4 linked regions of the Homo sapiens genome follow. The protein of the gene in region 4 purifies or fractionates together with the protein of the main gene of each other region. This does not show direct contact. Each region holds a gene or a part of one and is shown on either strand. Other genes may lie near its edges.

Region 1 (4,202 bases), on a different chromosome or scaffold from region 4:
AGAAATATAATAATAAACACCAGGCTTTATATATATATTCCCTTACCCCTTTTATCAAGTTCAGTGTACGTTTTGCTTATGTGACTCAGACATTAAACATTCATCTGTTAATGTTTCAGTAAAATATGAAACAAAATTAAGATTTGAAAGATATAAAGATTTCATGTCACATGCACATTTTTGAGAATTTAAGACAGACAGGGGAACTGTATTGGAAGCAAATTACCACAGTGATGAAGAACACAGTCTTCAGAATAACAGATCTTGGTTCAAACCCTGACCATATGACTAGTAAGCTCTGCGAACTTAGATACTTATGTATCCTCTCTGAGACCACCTAAATTACCCTCAATTTAGGTAATTACCTAAATTACCCTCTCTGAGACCACCTAAATTACCCATCTATGACACAGAGATAATACCACCTACCACAAGGTTGTTTTGAAGATTAAATTAAGTACTGCATGCAAAGAGCCTGACACAGTGCCTGGGACATAGTAAATACTCAACAGTGGTAGTTATCAAAGATGATTATTACTGAGGAATTCCTGACTTGGTGATACGACAGAAGACCTTCAATAAAGGGAAAAATATCTGCCTTGAAAAGATTAAGTTGGCCTATCACAATGTGGTATCTAATAGGACCTTTCTGTATAATTTCCTGCCTATTTTAGTACTGATGTCTATTACTCTAGTCGAAGCCCCATTTCCAAATTTATTATTGGAGCTAACATTCTCAGTCCACCATTGTCTTGATTTATAGAACAGGCTCCCATTCAGTCTGCCTGCTTTATGAATTTCTGTGATATTTTATCCTCCACAGAACCCACTATTTTCACTGAGTTGCCACACTGCTCAATACCTGGCAGAATGCCTTGTATGTGATTGGTCTTGGCAAGTAAAAATCTGCTAGTTGACTAACAGTAGCCCTAACAGTAGCCCTTCCTTATATCAAATACCCCACAAAAAAATCTTCCTTTTCCTGTCTCTAAACCAAACCACCTTCCTTATTTACTAATCTTCTGGTTTCATCTCCACCTACTTTCCAACATGGCATCTCTAACTCCGAATTTATCAATTCTAATTGTCAAATCATGACAGTTTGGTTCATATCATTTGTTTCTTCTGTCCTTTTCTTCCCACTCTGCATAATATCACAATTCTTCCATTCTCAAACATAATCACATACTTTAGCAAACTACTTTAAGAAAAAGTTTAAATTTAACTTCCAATTAGTCTTCCTTACTCCAATTACACTCATCACTCTATTATACCATGCTCCCATAATACACATATGCAGTTTACCTTGCATGTATTTATCCATTCCTTTTTAATAGTCCTTTAGTTTTCCAGTATATCCTTTATCTTCCAAATCAGACTGTAATTCCTTGAGGGAATACCTTAGCACCGCTCCTTCTGTGCCCCTCACGACACCTACCACACTGCTCCATAGATGTGGTATCCAATAAATGCTTAATTAATAATGGTTTATACGTGCAGACTATTTTTGTTTCAAATGCGAAACAAACTTGTTGCAAAAAACACAAAAAATAAGGCCAAGAAAAAAACACGGTATTGTAAATTAGAAAGTCCGAGTTAAGTGAAAAAAAGAAGTGCCTTATTAAAAATAACACAATGAACACTACAAAAAAAAATGAGGGACAATGATAGAATAACACTCAAATGTCAAGAAATAAAATGCCATATTTACTGTTATAGTAATTCTAATAAAATCTAGTGAAGAAACAAATTGATATCATTAATGTTACATGAATATTTTTGAGATCTAGGAAACCAAAGTGAGGAAAACACCCACTTTGTTCTATCCTAGATTTATCACTTAGGAAACACTTGGCAAGTCATTTAATCTCTCTGATTCACCACATATAAAATGGGGATCAGTCCATTTGCCTTACCTTTTATGAAACTGTTGTGAGATAAGGAAGCTAACATATATGAAAAGTAGTTTATAAACTCTAAAAGGTTAATCAAAGATAAGATACTAATCAGGCCGGGCACGGTGGCTTACACCTGTAATCCCAGCACTGTGGTAGGCCGAGGTGGGTGGATCACTTGAGGTCAAGAGTTCAAGACCAGCCTGACCAACATGGTGAAACCTAGTCTCTACTAAAATGCAAAAATTAGCTGGGCGTGGTGATGGGCACCTGTAATCTCAGCTACTTGGGAGGCTGAGGCCAGAGAATCACTTGAACCCAGGAGGCGGAGGTAGCAGTGAGCCAAGATCGTCCCATTGCACTCCAGCCTGGGCAACAAGAGCAAAACTCCGTCTAAAAAAAAAAAAAAAAAACTACTCAAAAATAAGATATTGTTAAACTGCCCACAGCTCAACAGTCAACTCAAAACCTGTATACCTAGGTTTTCTGCATTCACATGACAAAAGCCCATTGGCCATATAAGCACATAATAGCATCGCTATTAACAGCATTAAGAATGAAGAGTCATAATATGAAAGGTGATTTATATATTTTCTACAGAATTGTTCACACTCTTATTCACTTTTATTATCTTGAAAACCAACAAAACTAAAGTGTGTTACATGAGGGATCTAAGGGGACAATTTTCAGCAAAAGTTCCACACCTAATTTTTTGTTTTTCAGTAAAAGTTCCATGCCTAACTCTTAAAGCAAAAGTTCCATGCCTTTAATTTTAAGAAAGGATAATTAATTACACTTTACAGATAAGACAAAATATGGCAACTTCTCTTATTACAGACTATGATGATGACACTGTGAAAACTGAGCATAGCAAATGATCTAGTCAGTGGTTCTCTATTACATTCTGTGATGGGGGCCCTATAGAGTGAATGAAATACATTAACCAGTACTGGACAACCTGGAAGATATAAGTCAAAATACTTAATTAAAGGTATAAGCGAAGAGAAGAAATTATTCTTCGGAAATTTTTTCTACATCAATAAACTATCGTTTTACTGTTCTCAACATTATAATTTGGTGAGATTCCTAGCACTACGGAAAACACAAGCAATAAAAACACAACACTGTCCTCACTTTCCATTAAAAACAACCACAGTATTTTTGGAGTTCTGCCAAGGTTGAAGTTAATACCTAATGAGAAAATATAAAGACACCCAAAAGCTCCTAAAACTCCACTGACATCCTCAGAAAGCAAAATTCTGTTCATCTAAAAGGGTTATCTTTCCCCAAATTTAAAACTTTATACTGTGGTAAAAGACATTTTCTTAAAAAGATATTCAACCTTTCAGAGAAAACCTCAGAATCCAGTAATAGTTCAATTCTACTAATTTAAAAGTGTTTGAAAACTATAAAAACACATTTACCAATTACAAAACAATGTAGCTGCATTATAAGCCTTCAAATGAACCTTGGAGTTCTAAGATATTACAATGATTTTAACATACACAGGTGCTCCTCGACTTATGATGGGGTTACGTCCTGATAAACCCAATATAGTAAGACAAAGTGCATTTAATACCCCAATAAAACCATTACAAAGTTGAAAAATCATTAAGTCGAACCATCTTAAGCTGCAGACTGTTTATCTAAAGGAAAACAATCTGCATCATTAGTTCTTATAAAAATGTTCACTATCAAAATTGATTTCACAAATTAAATTTAGTGTCATTTACATTGCTAGCTTTAATTCCAAAGGTCATTTATAATGTAACAATATTTTTTAGATAATTTTTCTTAATAAAAACTGCTTAACACTGCTTTTTGTAAATGCATTTTTCACTAATTGCCAAAATTCATATACTACTCTGAGAGTTTGGAGGTATATATTCTGATATCATCTAGTACTGCTTCCCAATTAATAGTAATAACAAAGAAACACCTCAAAGTAAATGTGTCTTATGAATACCTTGTAACAGCCTTTTAGAGGAATCAAATGAAAAACTGAGGAACAGGTGTTTAATTTATTCAGCACAGGTGTTCACCATTTATTTTTCAGCCATTTGCACCTTCTCTTACCCAATACGACTTGCTGCAGACATTGTATTCTTTTACTTTGATGTTTATACTTTGTTCTAAGGCCATTTATTTCTGATTTTCACAGTATATATTATACTGCTACCCAGCTGTTTATTCCTAAAATAAATGTTTAATGGCTATTCATAAGAATTACAAAAATCAGACTATTCAGAAATTGTTGTTCTACAAAATAGCAATATAAAAAGTGAAATCAATTTTGAATTGCTGCAA
Region 2 (4,301 bases), on a different chromosome or scaffold from region 4:
ACCCCAGCCGTTCAGGGCCACTACTGGTCTCCGCGTCTTGATGGTAGTGGTCACCCCGGCCCAGGTGTTTTTTCTTTATCTCTTTGTCTTGTGCTTTTATTTATTACAATCTCTCATCTCCGCACATGGGGAGAACACCCACTAAGCCCCGTAGGGCTAGACCCTACAACTGGCCACCACTCCACAGATGCAGGCCAGCCCCAAGGAGGCCACTCCAACAGCAGGCACTGTCAGAACACTGGGATGGGCTGGTGGTGGGTGGGAAGCCTGGGGGGCCCTTTCTCCAGATAGCCAAAGTCACACCTACTAGGCGGAATGTTAAGAGAGAAACCCAGATTCACTGGTTGGGGCTCCTGGCTCATCAGAGAAAAGAAATTAACTCCTGCATCCCTGCAAAAGCAACCATTTCCTTTACCTCTACATATCTTTACCAAGAATCCACCCTGTGCCAACCAACGGGGGGCCAGACAGTATATGGAATATATAGAATTTTAAAACAAGTACAGCTAAAGCCTTCAGAAAGCTTAAAGTCTAGAAAGGACAATAAGCCGCACACGCAGAGAACCCAAATAGTCTCTCCAGGAAGAATGGAGATAGCAAGAACAACTAAACTTGGCCCAGTAGAAATAAAGGTCGGGGCCAGTGTGCCACCCTGCCTCTGCCACAGGCCTGGGTTTCTGGCTGTCAGGGTCAGGCGGGCTGTCTGACAAGTCCTGGGGTCTCTACAGCGGTGCTGGGTGCATGGGAGGACATATCTGTAAGGCCAAGGAGAAGAAAGACAGGGAGCAGGAGACCAAAGGGAAAGCTGGGAAGAGAGGGAGAAAAGGTGCAACCATGGGCCGCCAGCCAGCCCTTGCCTCATATATTTGGCCTGCCAGCCCCAGGCTTGTCTCCCACTCTCCATAACCCAGAACTGGACTCTCTCAGTCTTTCTCACTTGACAGAGTAACTGAGGCTGTAGGACCCTCAGCAGGGCAGACCCTCAGGCCAACTCGCCCTGGCTCCAAACCTCCGCAGAGCTCTCTGGGAAACAAAGCAACAAAGGCAGCCCTGACAAATCAATCCAGAAAGTGAAGCAGCCTACACCACAACCCCGCCTTGCCAGAAACTCAGTGTTCATGGTGGAAAAGGAGATGAGGGCGGGGCGCTGTTTTAGATTAAAGGAAACTGAAGAGGCATAAGAAAATGTAACACGAGTACCTTGACAGGATCTCGATGGTTTTTCTTTTTTTTTGACGGAGTCTCACTCTGTTGCCAGGCTGGAGTGCAGTGGCACGATCTCAGCTCACTGCAACCCCCACCTCCCGGGTTCAAGTGATTCTCCTGCCTCAGCCTCCCGAGTAGCTGGGACCACAGGCATGTGCCACGATGCCCAGCTAATTCTTGTATTTTTAGTAGAGACGGAGTTTCACCACGTTGGCCAGGATGGTCTTGATCTCTTGACCTCGTGATCCGCCTGCCTCAGCCTCCCAAAGAGCTGGGATTACAGGCATGAGCCACTGCGCCTGGCCTAGGATCCTGATTTAAAGAAACCAATGGTCAGGCCCGGCGTGGTGGCTCACGCCTGTAATCCCAACACTTTGGGAGGCTGAGGCGGGCAGATCACCTGAGGTTAGGAGTTCAAGACCAGCCTGCCCAACATGGTGAAACCCGTCTCTACTAAAAATACAAAAATTAGCTGGGCGTGGTGGCTGGCACTGGTAATCCCAGCTACTCTGGAGGCTGAGGCAGGAGAATCACTCGAACCCGGGAGGCAGAGGCTGCAGTGAGCCGAGATTGCACCATTGCACTCTAGCCTGGGCTACAAGAGGGAAACTCCATCTCAAAAAAAAAAAAAAAGAAACCAATGGTCGGTCAAACACAGACAACCTGGGCCCAGTGGCTGTAATCCCAGCACTTTGGGAGGCCAAGACAGGAGGATTGCTTGAGCTCAGGAGTTCGAGGTTACAGTGAACTCTGATCACACCACTGAGGACAATGGGCACATCTGACTATGGATTGGGCCCTGAATGCTATTAGGAAACTATTAATTGGTGTGATCACAACACTGTAGTTACATAGGGATGTATAATAAAATATTTAGAGGTGAAAAAGATGCAATGTATGTAATTTATCATAAAATACTTCAGCAAAAAATACAAATATCAAATGTGACCACTGTAAACAATGATTAAGTCTAGGTGGTAAGCAAATTGGTGTTCTAAATGCTTCCCACTACTTTTCCTGAATTGTATTTATGCCTCAGGCTGTGAGAGCATAGGTAAAGGCCAGGGCCACCCAATGTAAGTGATCTGTAAAGTCTACCCACTGCCATCATCATCATCATCTTTGAGACACAGACTTAATTTTCCCTCCCATTACCTATATCACCCCCATCATCTATTTCTAGACTCATACTGGAGAAGAGGGCTCTCCTGCACTGTGCAGGAAGGGCTAATGGCTGGCTGGCTGGCGGGCTGGCTGGCTGAGCGATGGGGAGAGCAATTTGCTAACCAAATATGCACAGGTGTCTGCCTCAAGCACCTGCAGCTGCTCCTGGACTGAGATTTGTGTTGACAGCCCCTTCCGGCTCTGCCCACCTGCTGACCAAAAAAACATAGCACTCTGGCCATTTTACTCCCTCACTGAAGCCTCTGCAATGAGTCTCTCCTGACTGTCTCCCCAAGTGGAAATCCCTCTGTAATGTGGCATGTGGCTCCACCCAGTTCCATCCCCAGCCCACACCCTGGACTCACTGTGTTGTGAACGCCCAGCCTCATTTCTGCACCCACGATTTCTCTCACAGTCCCTAGCCTGAAAGGCCCTACAAACTTCTCTTCTCAGTCCCCTGCTGCGTGACCCCAAGCTCTCCAAGCCAGGTGTCCTGACTGCAGGGAATTGTGACTGCAGGTACAAATGCTGGGTGTCACTGGCACCTTTCGCATGACCAGCCTGACATACCCAGGGGGCTCAGAGCTCACATTCAGAGGCCTGTGATGAACTTAGTAGAGATCTGCGTTCTGCTTTCCTCCTTCCCCCACCCCAGGTTTCTTCCCTTCCACTCACACAGCCCTCACTCCCAGAGAGGGGTGTCCCAGCCCCACATGGGGTGAAGTCTAGAGAGCAGGGCTGGGGGTGGACATGCAGGGACTCCAGGCATGTGTGCAGAGGTCATCCAAACCCAGAAACCTCCCCCTAAGCTGAAAACAGAAAGCTGGTGTGGCCCCACCCTAAAACTCAGCATGTGTCCCCACCCCCAACCCAAGCCACCGCCCCAGTGGGCCAAGCTAGGGAGGGGATATGGGGTCAGGAATGTAGGGCAGGGCAGAGTGTAATCAAGTGGCTCCAGCAGGATTCTTTCAGGCCGGCAGGATTCAGGCCGAGCAGTTGGATGCAGCCTGAGACCCTGGAGTCTCAAGGTGGATGTGTGGCACTGGTTCTAGGCTGAGCCAACCCCGCGCCACCCCCTCTCCACTTCATCCCTTCTCCATCACATCCTCGCACTGCCTGGGAAGTGCCTAGTACCTAACCTTGAGGGCAGAGGCTGGTCTTACTCCCCACATGCTAGTGCAACACTCACACATGACATGAATCATGTCTGACCCTCTGTGGCACCAAGTTCTGTTCCTATACCCCTCCACCACCACAGAAACACAAAAAGTTAGACAGCCTAAGAGTTAAAGGTGTACCTTGTCTTTGATCTCCATTTCTGGGAACGTATTACCTGAGAGGATAACTATAACTAGACAAGTGTTCAGGCATGCATGCACTAGGATGTTCAGGGCAAATTGTTCTTAACAGCAAAAATTTACAAAGAGCCTGAATGTTGAATACTAGAGTTGCTTAAATAAATTAAGGTACAGCATACCATGGCTGTGCAGCCATAACAATGGTGTGTTGGCATGGGAAAATACAGCTCACTATATATATGCAAAAAAGGACAGGGTACAAAGCCATACGTGCAGTTTGATATTGTTTGTAAATGTTCATTTATGAATATAAAAGGCTAGAAGGTCATAGGGAATGTTCATGTAAGCCATAGTGGTATTACAGATCATTTTTTTGAGTTTTTCACATTTTCTCCATGGAATGTATATTTTTTTTTAATCTGAAAAAATATATATATTTTCAAAAAATGAGTTGCATGGATTAGGCTAAGACCAAGAATCTGCCTTGAGGTACAGAACAGAAGTCTAACATCTTCTTCCAATGAAATCACAATTAAATGAAAGCCAAGCCGGGTACAGTGGCTCATGCCTGTAATCCCAGCACTTTGGGAAGCCGAGGCAGGCAGATCACCTGAGGTCAGCAGTTCAAGACCA
Region 3 (4,301 bases), on a different chromosome or scaffold from region 4:
TCGCCATCTTGCTAATGGGGAAGATTGTTGTCACATGTACACAGTCCAATATGGCCAGAAGGATCTTAGTTAATCGTAGAAGGTCAGAGAAGTTGTAGAAACCAAAGTATATGAGATTCCTAGCTAAATTTACAACCTATTGTATTAAAATAAAAGAAGAAGACGGTATTACATAAACTGCATCCCCTTCAATTCCATTTGATGTTGACCAGTTTAGAAATGACAGACTTGGACCTTCCTTATGGTAAGAGAAGGCATGTATTTTCCTTGCACTTTCTGATAAATTTTCATTTTGTTTCATAAGGAGGAAAAATAAGAAATGGAAAGCTACTGATCTGCTCTGATGACTAATCAAAAAAAAAAAAAGACCTCATCATTTGCTCTACACAGCTTCCCAAGGATAATATTAACACCAGGCAAGCAGAGTTATTCCCAATAAGGACACAGATAATAACACTCTGCGATCCTCAGCAATACAGCTCTTAAAAGGCAAAAGCAGTCTCAGAAACGTTGTTAACTCAGAAGTAACAAGGATTTATGTTCTGCAAATGATTAAGCTATGGCAGATTGCAAGCACAGTGTTTCTCTCTTGTCAGTTTTAACACAAAGTGATGTTCTATCATTTTATGTGGTTCAAGTCACCTTGTATATTTCTTTTAAGCCCATAACTACTATTAAGCCATGTGACTGGTATCCGTTTTATTTTATTCTGGAACAAAACCAAGCTGAATTCCTTTCCATTACAAAACCAGAGCATCATGACCAAAATCACAACCTACTCACATATTTTCTATTTGCCCCATAGAAAAATGACCACTGAGAGGCAGATAATACACATAGAAGATTTCATCATGAGTTACCTCAAACGTAAGCTTATTCTTCTCTTTATCAGAGAAAGGGAACCTCTGACAAACCACATCTCTTAAATACTCCTCCACAAACTCCATGGTCTGAGCAAATCTCTCCTTAATTTCATCTTTGGAAGCTCCACTACTATCATAGCTGAAAAGAAAGGAGAAAGAAAGGAAACAAAATTTCAAGTTATTCCCAGAGAGGTCTTCCTGGGTCACTCAGCTTCAAAAGTCAACATCCCCTAACCCTTGGCATCCCTTGACCCTACTTTATTTTTTCCCTCCTTAGCATATATCACCAACTATATATTTGAGTCGTTTATCTTGCCTATTGTCTGTCTTCCACCAACTAGCATAGAGATTGCTTTCTAGTTTGTTCACTGATATATTTCTTGAGCTTGGCACATAGTACACACTTAAATATTTGCAGAATGAAAGAGGAGATAAATGAGATATAAAAAATACAATCGGGGCCAGGCGCGGTGGCTCACGCCTGTAATCCCAGCACTTTGGGAGGCCGAGGTGGACGGCTCACAAGGTCAGGAGATCGAGACCGTCCTAGCTAACACGGTGAAACCCCGTCCCTACTAAAAATACAAAAAATTAGCCGGGCGTGGTGGTGGGCGTCTGTAGTCCCAGCTACTTGGGAGGCTGAGGAAGGAGAATGGCACGAACCCGGGAGGCAGAGCTTGTAGTGAGCCGAGATTGCGCCACTGCAGTTCAGCCTGGGCAACAGAGTGAGACTCCATCTCAAACAAACAAACAAACAAACAAAAACCAAAAACATAATCATGCCATCTTTCACATTCTTGAGGAAAAAAATATTTGCCATCCACTTAATTTTATTTTAAGCTTGAAGAAAAAACCAACACTTCATCTTTCTTCTAAGATTTAATGAGACCATATGGGGCTATCTACTGCCGCACAGAATAATGTAAAGTGAGGTTTTCAGGTGCCAGGCTCACTCGTCAATGGCGATCTCCGAGGGAATCTCCGACCAGAGGCGGGCATATTTCACGGGGGTGACTTGTTCCTGGGGATCTCGGTCCACATGCATGTGAAGCATGAGGCGGCAGAAGGACGCCCTGAGGTCATAGGGCAGGTTCTCGTCAGACATGCAGCGGAGAATGAGATCGACATCCAGCTGGCCTGAGATTTCGTTGATGGCCAGGTATTGGCGGTCCAGACACATCCTCGCAAAGAGGTTCAGCTGATATCTAGAGGAAGGAACAAGGGCACACAGCTCACGCTCCAGAAATCATTCAGGATGAATGAAGGGTCGTCTGGGCAGCCCTGACTGTCATGGGAGTGACATTTGGCCAACTAAACTCATACATCAACACCCCTAAATTGCTCTTGTATACCAGGATTTTGGCTTTGGTACCAAGCAGATAAAAGAACTATTCAAGCTGTGCAGTAGAGTGTGGGTTGACAGCCAACAGGAACACATGTCTATCCAGCTGTGTTGGAGCAATTATGTGACGACCTAATTCCACTAGGTCCTTAATGTTTACTTTTTAAAATAAACGGGGGGAATGCTAAGGCCTAAGATGGTTGTCTATTTCTTTCCCTTCAGCTGTGTTTTATACAGTAAAGACCATGTAGGAAATGTTCAAGATATCACACATATTCAGCCTAATTAGAAATTTTATAACATTTTAAAGATCTTATATCATGTAAGTCACTCTAATTCCTACACGTGTAAAAAAACATTTCATTTACAAAAGTAGGAGACTCCTCACTTTTCATCTTCATCCAATTGCAAGTGAATGTTGTTAACTGGAACCTGACCAATTAAGGCACTCTTTCTCATTCACTTGGGAGAAGATTCATCAAACACTGAAAGAGTAAACATACTTGAAATGTGAAATAACGAGAAAGCCACAGGCTTTCAAAATACTGCCTTCTGAATTAAAAACTCTATGTATTTCTAATAATCATGATTTGAAGACATTCTCAGCCTCATTAGATGTCGGGGAAATGCAAGTGTAGACATGAGTCTATTTCACACTTATAAAATTACCAAAAATTAAAAAGCATCATGATATTCAAGGTTAACAAAGACATGAAGAAACAAAGCTTGTCGTCTACAACTGGTGGGTGTGTACACTGACACATCCAATTTAGAATTGCTTAGTAAAGCTTAAAATATGAATATCCTCCAAGCCCACCTCCCAGTGTGGAATGGAAATTCATACATATACTCAGAAAAATTTGAATGAAGATGTTTCCTGACATGAAGAACTGCAGCATGTGATCAAATATCAAACAGCGATGAAAATGTGATAAATCAATAAAACAGAATATCATCCAACAGTCCAAATTACAGAAATGGATTAATCTCTATTAACGCAGATATATTCAATATGGCTTCAGTACCCGTATTGAATAAATAAGGCAAGTTTTAGAATGGTATTTGGAGTACAGTCCCATTTATATAAAATTTTAAGTAGAGATAAAATACTACATATGATTTACAGATGCATACAAATGCAGCACACAGAGAATGTGGATAGGATGCGTACATCACACATGAATGAAAGAACAGAATACAGGAGGCAAGAAAAGGCATTTTATCTGCAGTTTTATTTATTTTATTAAAAAATAATAAAAGCCTTGCTTTATCTTCCCTTTCCTTTTCTTTTAAAAGTATTAATTGGTTCACTTCCTTTCTTTCTTCCCCTTCCCTTCCCTTCAGGTGGCAGGACTGGCAGGTCTTACAGCTGGAGCCAAGGAGACACTGGGGACCGTGGAGGTGGGTGGCAGAGGTGAGACAGGTACACACAGGGAAACGGGCAGATGGGTAAACATACAGGGAATCGTGGCAGCTGGAGGGAGTCATGAAATGGAAAAGGTGAAGGCTAGAATAAATCCTATGGTGTTGGAATGGAATTGGAAGTATTAGTGTAAGTACATGCTTTTTATTATATATTTGTGTAGTTATAGAAAGATACATGGATGAATGTGTAGATATATGTGTATACAAACACACACATCTTCTGTCTCTGTCTATAAACATTTGGTGAGATTGGCACTATCACCTTCATTTTGCAGATAAAGAAATTAGAGCATAAAATCAAACTTGGCCAATGTCAAAAAACTGGTAAGCGGAGAGGTAGGGATGTGACCCCACAGCCTGCCTCTTACGTACCTACCACCATATCTATGGGCCATGCTGCTGAAGGATAAACTATCACCAGGGACTGAGGCAAGCACTCATCCTTTTTGGGAACCAGCCACATCCAGATGTCAACTAACTGAAATCTTACACTCCAAACTCCTAAAACACACATCTGGCTTTTTTCTAGACAATCTTACAAGATGACTCCTTGTGATTCCTTGAAGTAATCAACAAACGAGCAACAAATTCCTAAGTGCCACTGTTTTGGGGCACCCCAATCTGAGCCCCACACGTGTCCCACGCACCTGTAGTAGCTGAGAACGTCTCGG
Region 4 (4,854 bases):
TAGTTACCCTACTACATCTGAGGCCAGGTTCAAACCAGGCAGGCTGGCCTCAGAGCTCATACCCATTGATATTATACTGCCTCGTACTTATATTGTCCACCATCATCATGTATGTGTGTCTGTGTGTGTGTGTTGGTGGTGGTGGGTGTTGGCAGACACTCTTTGCAAAGCCTACCTTATTTAACCAGTTAATTCCTTGACCATCCATTCAACAATTAGGACAATTAAAGTATCAAGCACTGCATACAACAGAAGGGAGGCGGCAGTAGACAAAAGTGGCTAAGGACATGGGGCATCTGTCTATGTAATAAGTAAAAGGACAAGAAGGATGTTGACACATTTTAAAAGGTACAACAGGAGTGAGGGCAGGTAGCCTCAGCCTATTGGGGTGCATGGGAATGTGGGGGTAGAAAGAAAGGGGTGAGAATCAGAGAAAAGGTCTAACTCCTCAGAGGATGTGCGGATGGCCAGAACACTGACATTCTTCTACAGAGGCCTCACTATTCCTGGCTGTCCTGTCCCAAGCTGGTCTACCTGCTGCCCTGTTGGCCAGGATGACTTGTCTGTGCCACAGCACTGAATACCAGGCGTGCATTCTTCTCTCCCAACACTCGGCTTGCCATGGCCAGAAAAGACAAGTGTTTTAGAGGTATGGTTTCAGGCAGACACATCCTAGAATTAAAATTACTTCAGGGATATCTGCAGTAAAGCTGAAGGAAACACTCAAAAGGCCAAAGGAAGCAAGCTTTATTGAATTTACAACGTAGAAAATATTTGTAGTTCCTTAGACATTTGCATTGCTATAAAAATTACACTTTATGGTATAATTATTAAGGTTTGAAGAGAAATAAACAGTATAAACGAAATATGGCCCACACAATGAAAATGTAAACCATATAAATCAAAATCATAAAACAATTATTCAATACTCAGAGGCCTACTTAATATATACATATGAAATTTCTTACACACACACAATAAATGCCCACAAAAACCATCACTGAAGCCGATCACTGTACAAATATGAAAATAAATCTTTATCTTTAACCTCAATTTTATCTTCAGCAGGAGGGTTGTGCAACTTGGGTTTATGCAGATCACATCAAGTGTTAAATAATCAAATGTCACATATGTCATATAAAGCAGCAAGTGAAAAAAATAAATTATGAAAATGCATGGGCTAAAAGTTAACAGTGAAAAATATCTCCTTATCCAACATTATTTTCCACAATGAAATTAAAATATTTTACAATGTATCAGGATACATTTAAAAAAGGACTGTAGTATAACTATGATTTTAAAATATCTTAAAGAAAAACAGGGACAAGGTGAATAACTTCCATAGTAATATGCAAATGTATCAAGTCTAAGATAAAAACATTAAATATTTTTGTTCTTACTGAAAATGTGCTTTAAATTTGAGAACACCTTCATGAAATCAAAACGTTGGTAATAATCATGAATCTCCCAGCATACAGAGCTTTAAGAAGCTTCTCTTTAAACATGATTGCTAACCAGAGCTCTAAGTCTCTAATTTGGATTATGTTACCAAAATATTTATCAGGGCTCAAATACTTAAAGATGATTGGTTGACCATCAAAGGCACTGGTGTAATCTCATCAACGTGGCTATACTGACAGGACAATCCAGAGGTAAAGACTATGAAAATACTTCTGTATTATGGTATACTCTTTCACAGATTGTAAAACAAATATAAAGAGACACTTTGGAGAGAATAAATAAAGGCAACACAGTAACATATAAACTAACACAGTTTTGTGCAACTGCACCAAAACCTAAACATGTGTCCCATATATCAGCATCTACATATATCTGATCCAATGTCATCAAAAGATGCCACTAAGACAAACAGCCATGGCAAAAGTTTTCCCATGCCACATAAATAATACCCCCCTTATTTTGAAAAATTTCCCATATGCAAGACATTCTTTATGATCAGAAATGTAATCTTTTCTTTTTCTGGAACCAGGAAACAGGAATTCATGGCAGAGTTACTGAGGATAGATCCAACTTTCCAGCAAAAATATCAGATGTCTTCAATAGAGAGAAGGCATGTTTATAAAAGTTAAATGATGTTGTAGCTATTTATAATCTTTGCCTGTAACTATCCGGTCAATTCCCATTTTTTCAAAAAACTGATGCTTGCGGAATTTAAGGTTCTATCACAAACACCGTGAACAGAAAAAAGATTGCTACATGGAATTGTTTCGATTCAACAAAAATAAATGTTTTTAGCTTATACAATACAATAAATAACAGCTACTTTTTAAGTTCCTTCAGCAAGCTACTTGGGGCCTGGACCTAGATGAAGCAAGGTAAATTAGAATCTTTTGTTGTAGCCCACCCTAGGCTCAAGTGTTGACTCCTTTGGCTCTTAGAGGCATCTCAGTGGGGAGGTCTGGGAAGCAATGCAGGTTCTGGAAGGAGAGTAGGCCCAACCAGGTCACTGGTGATGATGAGCCACTAGTCACATTAAACAAAGGACCCTGACTCACCTTTCCTAATGGTGATTCCTCTTTCAAGGATATTATTTCAAAACCATGCATAGAATTTCTTTCATTGATTATTACTTAAGGAAGTTAATGTTAGCAACCAGGGAGTTAGGGGACTTGCATTACATTACAGGTTATGCTTCTAAACCATGGGAAGGTTTGAAATCAGCAGGGATACGAAAATGAAAATTTTGCAAAATGTTACATCACTCTAAGTACTAGCATTTTTTTTAGTGAGATAATTCACAACCATAAAATTCACCCTTTCAAAGTATACAATTCAGTGGTTCCTAGTACATTCAAACAGTTATACAACTATCACCACTATTCCAATTCCAGAACATTCTCATCATCGCCCAAAGAAACCACATACCTATTAGCAGTCACTCCCCATCCTCCCTTTCTCAGCCCCTGGCAACCACTCCCTTAAGTGAAGAGTGACAACTTTCCTGGGCATTGTGCTTTCAGTAGTATGTGGCTTTACATGTTTCCATTAGAATTTTTAACACCAAATTCAAGCAGTGAGCTTTGTAACTATTCTGAGATTATGAAATATCCTTTTATATACAACTATTTTTGTCTCAAACATGTTTCTTTATACATAAAAAATAGATATTTCTGTTTCCATTTTTTAATCAAATTCTGTCCTTATTTCAGAAGTGAGAAAAATCAATACTCCAATATTAAAAAGCAGGAATAACCATAGTTCTATTATTAACTGTGGGCCACCACACTCTCTGTCCTACTGCTTCCCACAGAATCTGAGGTGCCAAGGGCTGCAAGGCCTTTGAGGGCAAGCTGCACATTTTACAGATGAAGAAACAGATCCGACATGGGCTTGTGACATGTCCAAGGTCACAAGGCCAGTTAACAGCAAAGCTAGGATGAGAATCCCTTCTTACTAGAACTTTAGTATCAAATATTTAAATGCTGACTTTGTGGGTAACCTAATTCAGCTACCACATGAATCTAATTATGTCAGTTTCCTCTACAGCTTTGATCTGAGCATGTGATTTCTTTTCTTTTCTTTTTTTTTACCATTTTAAAAACATTTACATGTTATCTTTTAAGACCTGTAAGGACATGACTAGTCTATTTAGCCAGAGGGCCCAAATCACTCACTGAGACAAAACAAAGAAGAGCCAAAGTTCCAGAGGGACCTGAGAGCTGGGTTCAGGTTTCCTGCACTGTAACTCTCCATAGGACAGTGTCAGTAGGATGTGCCACTCTGTTAAGAGCCAAATAAGTCACACAAATTCAGTATTCTGGAAATGAAGACTTCACAGGCCAAGGATGTTTGGGATTTAGCCATTGCAACAATTCTTCATCTGTGGTGACTTTTTGGAATTGGTCCCGGTTAGATTGGTAATGGATCTGCTGTCATCCTTGTCAGTTCTCTTTTTCACTTCTCTGAGACAGAGATAGAGAGAGACAGAGAGAGAGAGAGAGAGAGAGAGAGAGGATTACTGAGGTATAAAAACTAAGCCACAGATGGTTCTGTAGAAATAAAAATAGCCATGCTGAGTGTCTGCACGGCCTTATAGACATTGTTTTAATGCTTTATAGGTCTTGACTTAATCTTCATAAGAACCATATAAATTTGCTGTGCCCCATTTTGTATGTGAGGAAATGAGGGCAAAAAGAGGTTAAGACAGTTCCCTTAGGTCACATGACTACAGAAGTGGGATTAAAACCACACAGGCTGGCTCCAGCACCTGTTTTCTGAGTACCAGGCCACACACACACACACACACACACACACACACACACACACACACACACACCCTTCTCCCCTCACTCTCTCCTGAGGTTTCAGGATGCTGCAGAACCTGCGATACACACAGCTTGCTCCTTAACACTCTGGAACCAGGTTTCCAGCTTCATGTAATGGTTGCTGAGCTTAACAAAAGCAATGGTGATTTTATAACCGTTCTTTAATTATACATGATCATGGAGGTAACAATGGATTTACCACCATCCCTTTCTGTCATCGTAAGCTTCTTCCAGTATTAACTGCTAGAGGCAAGACTCACGAAAAAATGTCTTACTCTCCAAGATCTTATGAAAACCCCCTAAGGAAGTATCCTTCCAGGTGTAGCCACTGGGGATGCTTGTGAAATATGAAGACCAGAAGTCTCACCTTAGACAAGCTGAACGGCTATCTCTGCCAGCGAGATGAGTGCCTCCCTAAGATGGCCCCAAATAATTCTGCCCTTCCTTGTCAGTGCCTGATGCCTCTCCCATCAAGAGGTGAAGGTTTGATCCCCTACCCTCTTGGTCAGAGCTGGTTCTCCACCTGCTTTGACCAATAGAATATGGAGGAAATGGTATTCTGTGGCTT

What was found.
Region 1: the proteins of RASEF (region 4) and CHM purify together in Homo sapiens (affinity purification with mass spectrometry; one large-scale study listed by BioGRID and IntAct). This does not show direct contact.
Region 2: the proteins of RASEF (region 4) and ITPR3 purify together in Homo sapiens (affinity purification with mass spectrometry; one large-scale study listed by BioGRID and IntAct). This does not show direct contact.
Region 3: the proteins of RASEF (region 4) and ITPR1 purify together in Homo sapiens (affinity purification with mass spectrometry; one large-scale study listed by BioGRID and IntAct). This does not show direct contact.

What each region holds. Positions count from the first base shown.
Region 1 is NC_000023.11:85,964,059-85,968,260, forward strand, and holds part of CHM (rab proteins geranylgeranyltransferase component A 1), read right to left. Parts: intron 1-4,202. UniProt on the Homo sapiens protein: Substrate-binding subunit of the Rab geranylgeranyltransferase (GGTase) complex.
Region 2 is NC_000006.12:33,627,021-33,631,321, reverse strand, and holds part of ITPR3 (inositol 1,4,5-trisphosphate-gated calcium channel ITPR3), read right to left. Parts: intron 1,285-4,301; exon of another isoform or gene 938-1,284; intron 79-937; exon of another isoform or gene 1-78.
Region 3 is NC_000003.12:4,670,903-4,675,203, reverse strand, and holds part of ITPR1 (inositol 1,4,5-trisphosphate-gated calcium channel ITPR1), read right to left. Parts: coding exon 4,278-4,301; intron 2,069-4,277; coding exon 1,817-2,068; intron 1,003-1,816; coding exon 861-1,002; intron 137-860; coding exon 1-136. UniProt on the Homo sapiens protein: Inositol 1,4,5-trisphosphate-gated calcium channel that, upon inositol 1,4,5-trisphosphate binding, mediates calcium release from the endoplasmic reticulum (ER).
Region 4 is NC_000009.12:82,978,860-82,983,713, forward strand, and holds the end of RASEF (ras and EF-hand domain-containing protein), read right to left. Parts: intron 3,924-4,854; coding exon 3,818-3,923; 3' UTR 731-3,817; downstream 1-730.